2 separate regions of the Homo sapiens genome follow, and region 2 is linked to region 1. Evidence: fine-mapped expression QTL. Tissue or cell type: subcutaneous fat. Region 1 holds a variant in brackets; the other region holds the start of a gene. All regions are shown on one strand. Distances are from middle to middle.

What was found. PIP is the estimated chance that this variant, and not a neighbour inherited with it, causes the effect.
Region 2: DMRT3 starts here. The variant in region 1 is fine-mapped to the expression of DMRT3 in subcutaneous fat (GTEx, PIP 0.98).

The regions. Positions count from the first base shown.
Region 1 is chr9:1,000,763-1,005,982 of GRCh38, reverse strand. It overlaps the pseudogene RNU6-1073P. Among named protein-coding and RNA genes, the nearest start is that of DMRT3, 27 kb to the right of the region's middle. The variant G/A (reference allele first, on the strand shown) is at 2,349.
Region 2 is chr9:973,928-979,147 of GRCh38, reverse strand. It overlaps DMRT3 (doublesex and mab-3 related transcription factor 3), which reads right to left and starts at 2,493. Exons shown (of 2, transcript NM_021240.4): 1 at 1,693-2,493. The coding sequence starts at 2,146. RefSeq lists enhancers at 2,326-2,825, 2,826-3,327, 3,860-5,220.

The sequences.
Region 1 (5,220 bases):
CATTATTTGCTTTAAAGACTACTTACCTCATCCAAAAGGAAGAAACAGGAAATGGGATGGATGGGTCAAGTGTCGTGTAGTCTTCGTAACTGCTTAATGTTGGTGATGTGTAGATTAGGGTTCATTTCACTATTCTCTATATATGTGGGCCTTTTATTTTTTTAATAATAAAGTTTTGTTTTGTTTGTTTTTTGAGACAGGGTCTCACTGCGTCACCCAGGCCAGAGTGCAGTGGTGCAGTCACGGCTCACTGCAGCTTCAACCTCCCTGGGCTCAGGTGATCCTCCCACCTTAGCCTCCCAAGTAGCTGGGACTACAGGTTCTTGCCACCACACCTGGCTAATTTTTTGTGTGTATTGTTTTGTAGAGACGGGGTTTCTCCATGTAGTCCAGACTAGTCTGGAACTCCTAGGCACAAGCAATCCATCTGCCTCGACCTTCCTAAGTGCTCGGATTACAGGCGTGAGCCACTACACCTGGCCAAACATTTTTTAAAAATCAAAAAGACATGCTCACTTCAGTGACATCAAGTAGGACAAAAGACAATTCAATAAGTTGATGATATTTTCAGCTTTGATGGAACGCATCCACAGCCCCTGGCAGAGCTCATCATCAGGGTCAGGTCCCTGAAATCATCCATGTCAGGTCCCAAATATCCCGCTTGTAAAACTGCATTGCATTCCATTTACCCATCTCAGAAAGATAGATGGCGCCATCAGCCTGGTTAGGATTGGTTTCAGTGACCAAGCATTTCTAATGAGAACACACTGCAGAAACCAACCACTTCCTTGCATAAGACATTCAGCTACAAACCCTGGTGGTTAAGCTGCGATGGGTTCTGCCAGCTTTGAGCTTGGGTCACAGACCTGTTCAAGGGCAAGTGTTCTTCCAGCACTCCGAGAAAGAGATGGCTGTTGATGCAGATGGCATCATACGAAAAGCTCACCTCCATTCATAAGAAGAGAATGCAAATGAAAGCATACTGAGATTTTCAAGTTGTGGGAAATCACAACTGAAAACACACTCACTGGGGATGTGGGGCAACTGACATTCTTGTACTTTATTGGTGGGAGTATAAACTGGAAAAATACCTATAAGGGGACAAATTGGCAGTATCTAGTAAAATTACCAATGCATGTACGCTTTGCTGCAGGAATTCCTCTTTCATCAATTCATGCAACTTATACTTGCTCCCAATTCAAATCACATTGGTCTAAAGTTATTTATTACTAAATCGTTTAATAGTAGATGACTTCAAAACTTAACATACTTACCAGAAGGGGACTGCTAAATAAACTATGGAACAGCCAAATACTATGTAATTTTTAAAATTTTTATTTTAAATAAAATTTTAATTTAAATTTAAATTTTTAAATGAAGAAACTATCTTTATAATTATATTTAGCTATCTCCAAAACATAGTAAGTGGACAGAAAAAAAAAGGCAAGGTAAAACAACTGTGTATATAGTATACTATAAATAATGTTTAAAGAAAATGAAAAAAGAATACTTATGCTTGCATGTGCATAAAATATATCTGGAAGGGCTGCGCATAGTGGCTTATGCCTGTAATCCCAACGCTTTGGGAGGTTGAAGCAGGAGGATCACTTAAGTCCAGGAGTTCAAAACCAGCCTGGACAACATGGTAGGATCCTGTCTCTACAAAAAAATAACATAAAATATAGAACAAAAATTAGCTGGGCATGGTGGCGTGTGCCTATAGTCCCAGCTACTAGTGAAGCTAAAATTAGGAGGATCACTTGAGCCTGGGGAGGTCAAGGCTGCAGTGAGCCGTGATCATACCACTGCACTCTAGCCTGGGTGACAGAGCGCTGCCTTGTTTGTAAAAAGAAAATTAAAAATAAAATATTTCTGGAAGGATGCCCAAGACACTAAACATTGGTTGCACTCAGGTAGCTCGGAGGAGGGAGAATTTTCCCTGTAAACCTTTTTATGTCTTTTTACTTTGGAGCTCTGTAAATCCCTGACCTTTTCAAAAAATAAAAACAATTTCCTAACAACAGAAAACAAAAAACTGTCGGTTGACTTTCAAACCAAGCTTGAAAAGAAAACATCATATTTTAATTAGGGGCTAGTCTGGGACTGGGAGTTGGAAATTGTACCCACTGGAACGTGGGCCACTAAATGGCAAAAAGAAAAAAAACACAGTTAAATTTCCCTGTAGGGGCAAAATATTTCACATCCAATTAAAGCCAACTTACTATAGCTGGTCAAATTAAGGCCAGTTTCATCTTACACTCAGGCTTCACTGTCCTGATGAGCTGGTCTCTGAAATCCTGAGGAGCAGACTCTGGAGGCTGGGCATGTCAGGGCCCCTGAGCCTAATG[G/A]CCCCAGTGTCAGCCCAAGATGGGCTCTCGGATGTGACTCTCAGGGGGAAATCCAGCTCCCCACAGCAACTGTGTGACCCTGAAGCAGCGTGTTAGTGATTCTGGGCCTTCTGCTGGGAAAATGCATGTATCAAGAATGCATCACTGAAACAGCACACAGTGGACTCGAGTTCATTTTTCAAATATATCTGTTCAAGTGAAGACAGAGCCTGTTTTTAAAATCTATGAAACAGTTCCTGTTAAAAAAAAATAGTACAGGAGCAATAAAAAACGTACCTACCTTTTAGGGCTGCTGTGAAGATAAGTTGAGTCGATACACGCACACAAAATAAAAGTTAGCTGTGGCCGGCATGATGGCTCACACCTGTAATCCCAGCGCTTTGGGAGGCCGAGGTAGGCGGGTCACCTGAGGTCAGGAGTTTGAGATCAGCCTGGCCAACATGGTGAAACCCCATCTCTACTAAAAGTATAAAAATTAGCTGGGTGTGGTGTTGGGCGCTCATAATCCCAGCTCCTTGGGAGGCTGAGGCAGGAGAATTGCTTGAACCTGGGAGGCAGAGGTTGCAGTGAGCAGAGATCGAGCCATTGCACTCCAGCCTGGGTGACAAGAGCGAAACTCTGTCTAAAAAAAAAAAAAAAAAAGCTATTATCATCAGGAAGGAAACATAGGATTTGGAACTACTTAAAGCTCAACATATCTGTAGCATCTGTTCTGCTTGACAGCAGTCAGTCATCTTAAAGGTCAAGCCAGTGTATCTACAGACCACACCATGTGACCACTCTGAAGAATGACAGAATGTAGGATTTTGGAACTGAAAGGGCTCATGTCCCTGTGGTGTCACCTCTTAGTTTCATTGTATGCTTTTCTCCACAGCTTCCCAGGCATGCAGAAAACTCTACCTCCTAGCCCTTTCCTCTAAGTGAAGCCATGGCACTGGATCCAGCCAATGAAATGTGAGCAGAGGTGAGGCCCTGGAAAGCCCACCAGCACACCCTCCCCTGCCAGGAAAACCACGTGTGGAAATGGTCAAGCCACAGTAAAGAAGGAAACTAAAGCCAGAGTGGCTGTAATCCCAGCATTTTGGGAGGGCAGATCGCCCAAGGTCAGGAGTTCAAGACCAGCCTGTCCAACATGGTGAAACCCCGTCTCTACTAAAACTATAAAAAACTAGCCAGGTATGGTGGTGCATGCCTGTAATCCCAGCTACTCAGCAGGCTGAGGCAGGAGAATCATTTGAACCTGGGAAGCGGAAGTTGCTGTGAGCCGAGATCATGCCACAGCACTCCAGCCTAGGCGACAGAGTGAGATTCTGTCTCAAAAAAAAAAAGGAAACAATTCTTGTGTCACTGCCTAAAGAGCTGCCAAACCCATGGCAGATTCTGCACGGGTTAAAGTTTTAAAATAAACCTTTATGTGTTAAACCACTGAAATTTTGGAGTGTGTTAGTGAAGTGTAACCTAGGCTACCCCACCCAGCCCTTACTGGCTTTAAAGGCATTCCTATTTTCAGCAAGGTTACAGGAGCTTACAAAATGGTTTTGCTTTTAGAGGGAATTTGACCCATGTGGTGTGATGAAACCAGTTAGCTTTCAGGCAGGCCAGAACTTACAGGCTGTTTGTAACATATGTCATTTGCTTGGGTAGACAGATCTTTGAAAACATCGGGTCCATGTGCTCGCTTCAGCAGCACACATACCAAAATCGGAATGACAGAGAGAACATTAGCGTGGCCCTGAGCAAGGATGACTCACAAATTTGTGAACCATTCTATAAAACAAACAAACAAGCAAAAACTGGAACCACAGTGGCATAAGGTTGACAAAACAGAACTTTTGGTACAAAAAAGTTGGGAAACATGGATAGTTGTCCCCTTGTTTTAGGGATGAAAATAGAGACCCTGGGAGAAGCAAGGGACCTGTCCCAGGTCACATGTAAGCCTTATAAGGAGCAAGTCTCCAGGTCAGACGTCGAGGGTGAGGGGTAAAGAGCCCTCCTGCTTTAGATCAGCCTGGTCAGGCTCAACAGGCACTCAGGGATTCCAGCACCCCAAAAAAAGTTCCTCCCTGTTCTAGGGAAAATTTTAGGGAATTGAATACCCTACATGGATCTGTCCCAAATTCAGCTACAGGAAAGAAGCACAAATGAGTGAGACCAAGACAGGGAACATCTAATTTGTTTCCATACGATATTGACAGATCTTCCACCTTTTCCAGAAATGCCTAAACACTCGGTGCATACGTGAGATCTCTGGATTTTTCAATGTTGGCAATTACTTGAAAATGAAAACAAAAACTCTGTACTAATCAAACAAAATACACCTGAGGGCTGGATTAGGCCTTCAGCCCATTTTGTTACCACTTCAGCTTTCCTGTTTTCTTAACTGCAGGGACATGACCGAGGCGACAGCTATAGTCATACCACAGACACATCGCTTCCGGTAGGGTTACAAGATTTAGCTAACAAAAACATAGGATGCCCAGTTGAATTCAACTTTGGATAAACAATGGATAATTTTTTAGTATAAGTATGTATAGGCCATACATATATTGTAGAGCATAATTATGTCCAGGGAATATTATATAAGTATTATATCATATGCTACATGTATCAGTATTATATATTATACTTACATACTATTCCCTGGACATAGTTATATATATATATACACACACACACACACACACACACACACACATAAAAATATATACCTATACAAATTCAGCCTGGGACATCCTTATGATAAAAAATTATTCACTGATTATCTGAAATTCAAGTTTAACTGGTGTCTTATATATGGACCAAGACAGTTGATTAATGAGCTCTTCCTTCTTTGGCGCTAATTTATCAGGAAAACTGGAAAACAAAGGTATCT
Region 2 (5,220 bases), 27 kb after region 1:
ATAAAAACCACAGAACCCAATGCCCGATCACAGGAGTGCTGCTGAGTTAACCTCTGATGTTAACTCAGGCCTCTGCCCTAGTCCTGGGGGAAACGGAACCAGAGAAGCTGGAAATGGAAAAAAATTAAGAAAATATATTGGTACAAATCCAATTCTAGAGCTGAGACCAAACTCTTCCTTGTTATTTGTTCAAACCTATGGGAGAAAAATAATAAAACCTTTTTCTCCTCCCTCCTCTTCGTCTGTGACAAATCCATAAATATAAAAAGATGAGACAGACAAAAGAGAGACAACTGGCGATCATTTCTGAGAAACGTTTATATGCTAACTTGGATTAAATATCCACAAAATCCAAGTTCGGCAAACTCTCTTCAGGCTTTAAAATTCCCAGCTCTACTGTCACACAGGCTGTTCTCAGAGCTTCAGGCCTGGAAAGCATGGCGGAAAGACAGGGCAGCAGAACTCCACCTGCCAGTCACCCGTTGACTCACCATGAAACAGGTGAGTCCGCCTCACTTCCTCAGCTCCACAGGATCCAGACAAAGCAGTCCTGGGCTCCTGAAAGCCTTTCTCCGAAGCTAGGGGTACCGTCTTTAGGGAGTTGGCAGGTCAGTGTAGGTACCAGTTTTGCCACAGTTCTACTTACAGGAGGGCTCTGGACCTTCCCACTCCTAATTCCAGCATGCCCCCTTCCGGGAGAAGGTGGGCTGTGTTCCTTTGCACATTTGCCCCAGTTAAGGAGAAACACCAAACACATATCCACTGAATTCCAAGAGCCATCAAAAGAGCTCTTGAGCTGGGCAGAACCGCAAGCTAGAAATTCCCCAGGAAGAGAGAGACTAAGAGACTCAACTCAGGCCTGCCAAGCTCAGGAGGCCTGGATGGAAACGGATGGGTGGTGGGGGATCAGATTTTTTGTATTCCTTTAAACCACGAAGACAGCTGAGGGCAGCCTGGGGAACAGTGTTAAAGGATCTAGGAGGTTCTGCAAAGGAGTGAATTCTGGGCGCATCAGATTCTTTTCCCGCTATCAGCTCACAAGCCTTTCCGGACCCTTTTACTATCATTGCTAAATGGAACTTATTTCACCAGTTACAAGAGTCTGGAGGCCACGGAGCAAAGCTAGAAAGGCCAGGGTTCTGAGAGTTGGATACTTGTCCTCACTCAAATTTTCCTGGGCCCTGGGCAGGGCCGGGCCGGCCGAGAAGCACAGCCAGCTCGACTCAGCCGAGTGTTGGCCTTGGCTCCTTCCCTACACCTACCTACCCATTCCAACCCCCAAATGGCAAGGACCTCTAAAGCCTGCAGCCAGGAAAATCCGACCCCACCGTAGTGAGTGTGCGCACGTGGGTTTTAATTTTGTCCTGTCTCAACTCCGTTGTCTCCCTGCTCAATCTGACACGTTCCGAACCCTTCAACCTGGGAAGGCACCTGGCGATACTGACGCACAGTCCCGTCGTTTGGCTGCCCGGAGGCGCCTTCCCTGCGGGCGCGAGTGCCACTCGCGCTGGGTCCAGACTCAGCCGGCTTCTCCCGGGAGAGGAAGCCCCGGCCTGGCGGAGAGTAGGAAGGAAAGCCCCGACAGGCCCACGTCCCAAAACTTTGCCTCCAGTCCTCCCAAGTGGAGCTGCAGCTGGCACTCCGAAGTTGCCCCCGCGCCCGGCCAAACTCCCGCACCTCAGACGCTCTTACCTGGCTTGGCGAGCTGCGCCTGCAGAGCCCCGGGCTGCGGCTCGGCAGTCCAACGCAGCGCGGCGGCCGCGGCCAACTCGGCAGCAGGGCGCGGCGGCTGCGGCTGCGACGGCTGAGAGGCTGGCGGCGGCTGCGGGGCGGCGACGGCGTCCCCCGGCGGCGGGGGCCCTGGCAGAGCGCGCAGCGAGTCGGGGATGAGGCTCTCCAAGCTCTCGTTGGCCTGCTGCCGGCGCAGCGCCACCTGCGCAGCCATGACCCGCTGCCGCTCGATGATGAGGATGCACTTCTCGCAGGTGCAGTCCTTGAAGCGGCAGTAACGCTTGTGGCCCTTGAGCCAGGACAGGACGCCATGGTTGCGGCAGCGCGCGCACTTGGGCGTGCGCTGCAGGGGCGCCCGTGGCGGCTGCGACACCGGGCCGCCCATGTACAGGTAGGGGGAGCCGTAGCCGTTCATGCCCCGGGCTCCCGAATGAGTTGGCAGCCTGGCTGCGGGAGAGGGCCAGGGAGCGCTGGACGGCGGGGCTGCGAGGCCCGCTCAGGGGCGGCCTCCGGGCGACGCGGCCCTTGGTCCCGCAGCCCCGGTGGTCGTGTGTGCTCCGGGGCGGCCGGAGGTGCCGCAGTCGTCTCTCCAGCTCCCTTCGCGCTCACAGCTCGGCCTCCCAGCTCACGCCCAGCCAACGCCGACGCGGGCCTCTGCCTTGGGCGCGCAGCCGGGTCGGCACGTCCTCCTTCGCGGAGGCGCTGCGGCGGCTGCAAGGAGCCGGCGACAGCTCTGATTAAGGTCTGAGCCAGCTCTTCTGCAGCTCCCTCGTGAGCCGGCCGGACCCAACACCTCCGCCGCCCTCCCCCAACCCCTCCTCCTTCCCACCGCCACCCCCGCCCCTGGGGTCCCTGTCTCCTTGCACTCCCCGCCCCACGCCTTCCTCCTCCTTTGCGCCCCTCGGGTGCCTGCACTTCACCTTCCTTGCCACCTGCAGCCAGGCCACTCTCGCGGGGGCGCTCGCGGCCCCCTCCTCCAAGCCCTCTCCGCTACCCCAGCCCGCGGCTGGAGACTGCGGCGCTCCAGAACGCGGCGGTGCTCGCGGGGCGGAGAAGGGGAGGACCAGCGGGAGTGAGGGTGGGGGTGCCTGTAAGCGAGTGAGGTGGCCGCTCCGCTTCTCTCTCTTCTCCTCCCTCCAGTCCAGATCTGGCCGCGTTTTTCCGAGCCCAAGGCCGCTTTTATCCCGACATTTGGCCGCAGAAGCTCAGCTCCGGGAGAACTCGAACCTACGGGAGTGTTGCGGTTGCACCCCGGACCTGGGTGGAGTTTAGGATAGGGGAGTGAAGTGATGTTGGTTTAGGAAAGTTAGGCTCTTTTCGTAATTTCCTTTTAGAACGTATTTTTTTCTCTTTTGTTGCTTTAGAAGAAAATGGTTTTGGAGATCTGCCGGCCCAAGGATGACAAGCCATTTTGCAGGCGAATTTTACTTTTCTACCCTCCTGTCCATGTTTTAATATAAAACAGTATCCTGAAAGGTCAGGGACGTACGTGCTCCTGTAAAGGATTTGTTAAGCGCCGGGTATAAACTTTCAAGGGGCAGACACAGAAGCCACATTGGCGCCCCCAAAGTTACCGATATCCTCTTCCCTCGCTCCCAGCAGCTACTGGAAGCAAACGGAGGTCTTGCGCCAGCCACTCAGTTCAAATCCCCACGGATTCTGTGATTCAGTTATGGATATGGGATGGGGCCACTTTTTCACCTCCTTAACCCATAGACCCCAGTCATAGATGTCTTGGGGGAGAGGGTCCTTCACAAGATGACAGCAGAAAACTTTGTTTAGATTATTTGCGTGTTCCCATTCTCCCAGGAGTAGCGGGCTTGGCCTAGTGCAGACTATCGCTATATATGCACAAAGAAGGCCCTCCACCCTCGCACCTCCCCACTGCCCATCAGCAAACAAGCAAAAACCAAAAAACAAACAAACAAACAAAACAAGTGGATACACTGCAGGGCAGCACAATAGCTCTATGCGAAGCGGGGCAGTTCCAGAGCCTTCGGTGGATGCGCTTCTGAGAGCGTGCACCAAGCCCATCTCCTGGTGGGGAATCAAATGCTAGATGAGAGCGTAGGCAAGTCCGCTGCAATGTCCGACCCCTCATGGGCACAGAGGCCCTTGTCCCCTCGGGGAGGCCGCTTTTCTCTGTACTGCCCTGGAAGTAAGCAAGCAACCTGAAAACTTTCCTCTGGTGTTTGCCATGAATTCAAGGGAAGCACCTCCAGGCGTTCTAGCAGCCAACCCTCTGCCCAGAAGGCTGATTTGCGGAGAGGAGGGTTGAAAACCGAACCCCAGTTGTGTGTTTCCCTTGAAGCCCTTAGCTGTTCCCGTTTCATACGCGTCCGGGAGGTGGGGATCGCGGGACACTGACCTGGTAGAGTGTGGACAAGAAGCTCTAGCATTCGAGTGCTAACCCTGGGAGGCCATCCTCCAAAGCCGCGTGGGGTAGGGACCCCTCGGTCTTGCCCCTTCCCCCACCACTTTAATCCTTCCTCTAGTCTCAACCTTCTCTAGGAAAACAAGCCCTAAAATACAACTGGAAGGAATTTTGTAAGCTCTGGGGACGGGAGGCAGAGGTCGCCCCCAGCCCTGTAGGCCCGAGGCTAGGAAATGGGGAGCTGGACGCGAGTCATTTAACGTGCTGCGATATAGAGGGCCTCAAATGACACCTTAACTGAAAACTATTGCGCTGAAACCTCCGGATCTCTTGGAAACGTGGGGACCAACGACTTTTTTCAAAACCAAATTTCTTCCGATTTTCTTCAAACAGTGAAACGAGGAAGTATAAAGAACTTGAGTATGAATAAATTTTTAAAAGGAAAGCAGAAGAGCTCTGCACCAGGTTTGTGGGGGCACTTTCACTACCAAGGCGACCCCTTTTCCCCCGTCGGTCACCTAGCCACCCTATCTCGTTGCCACTCAAACAGTCTGGCATTTGGTCCCGGGGGCCCGTTTCACTCCGGTGCACATCGGGGGCTGAGATCTAAATACTCATTTGATATAGTGCAGTAATCCTTTTCTCATATTTGATGGGAATGTTTTCCATATCCCAGTATTTGACAACATCTCCCTATAGGGACAGGTTTGTATTTATGTTGGTAAAATGTCCCCTGCCTCAAAGTCTATTGTAACCCAACACCTGACAACCCCGAGTCCCATTTCTGTTTGCAGAAAGGGTTTATTCAAGCACATAATGGGATCCCAGCAGAAAGCCTTTCAGAACAAGGGGCTGTGGTAAACTTCACCACATGAACTCCGTTTCCAGGGCTATTAAGCTTTTAATTGGAAAATAGCAGAGGAAATTTCAAGGTGACTATAACGTGTTAGCAGTTAGTGCAGAGAAGAAAAGCCGAAGCGGGAATGAATGTAGAAAGCATATGGTCCAAATCACATTTAGGAGGAGCGGCCTGCTTCTACTAAGTCCCAGTAGCTTACACACTTATGGGAAAAATCATCAAAGAAATGGGAAAGGGAAGGGGGAGGATTACAAGT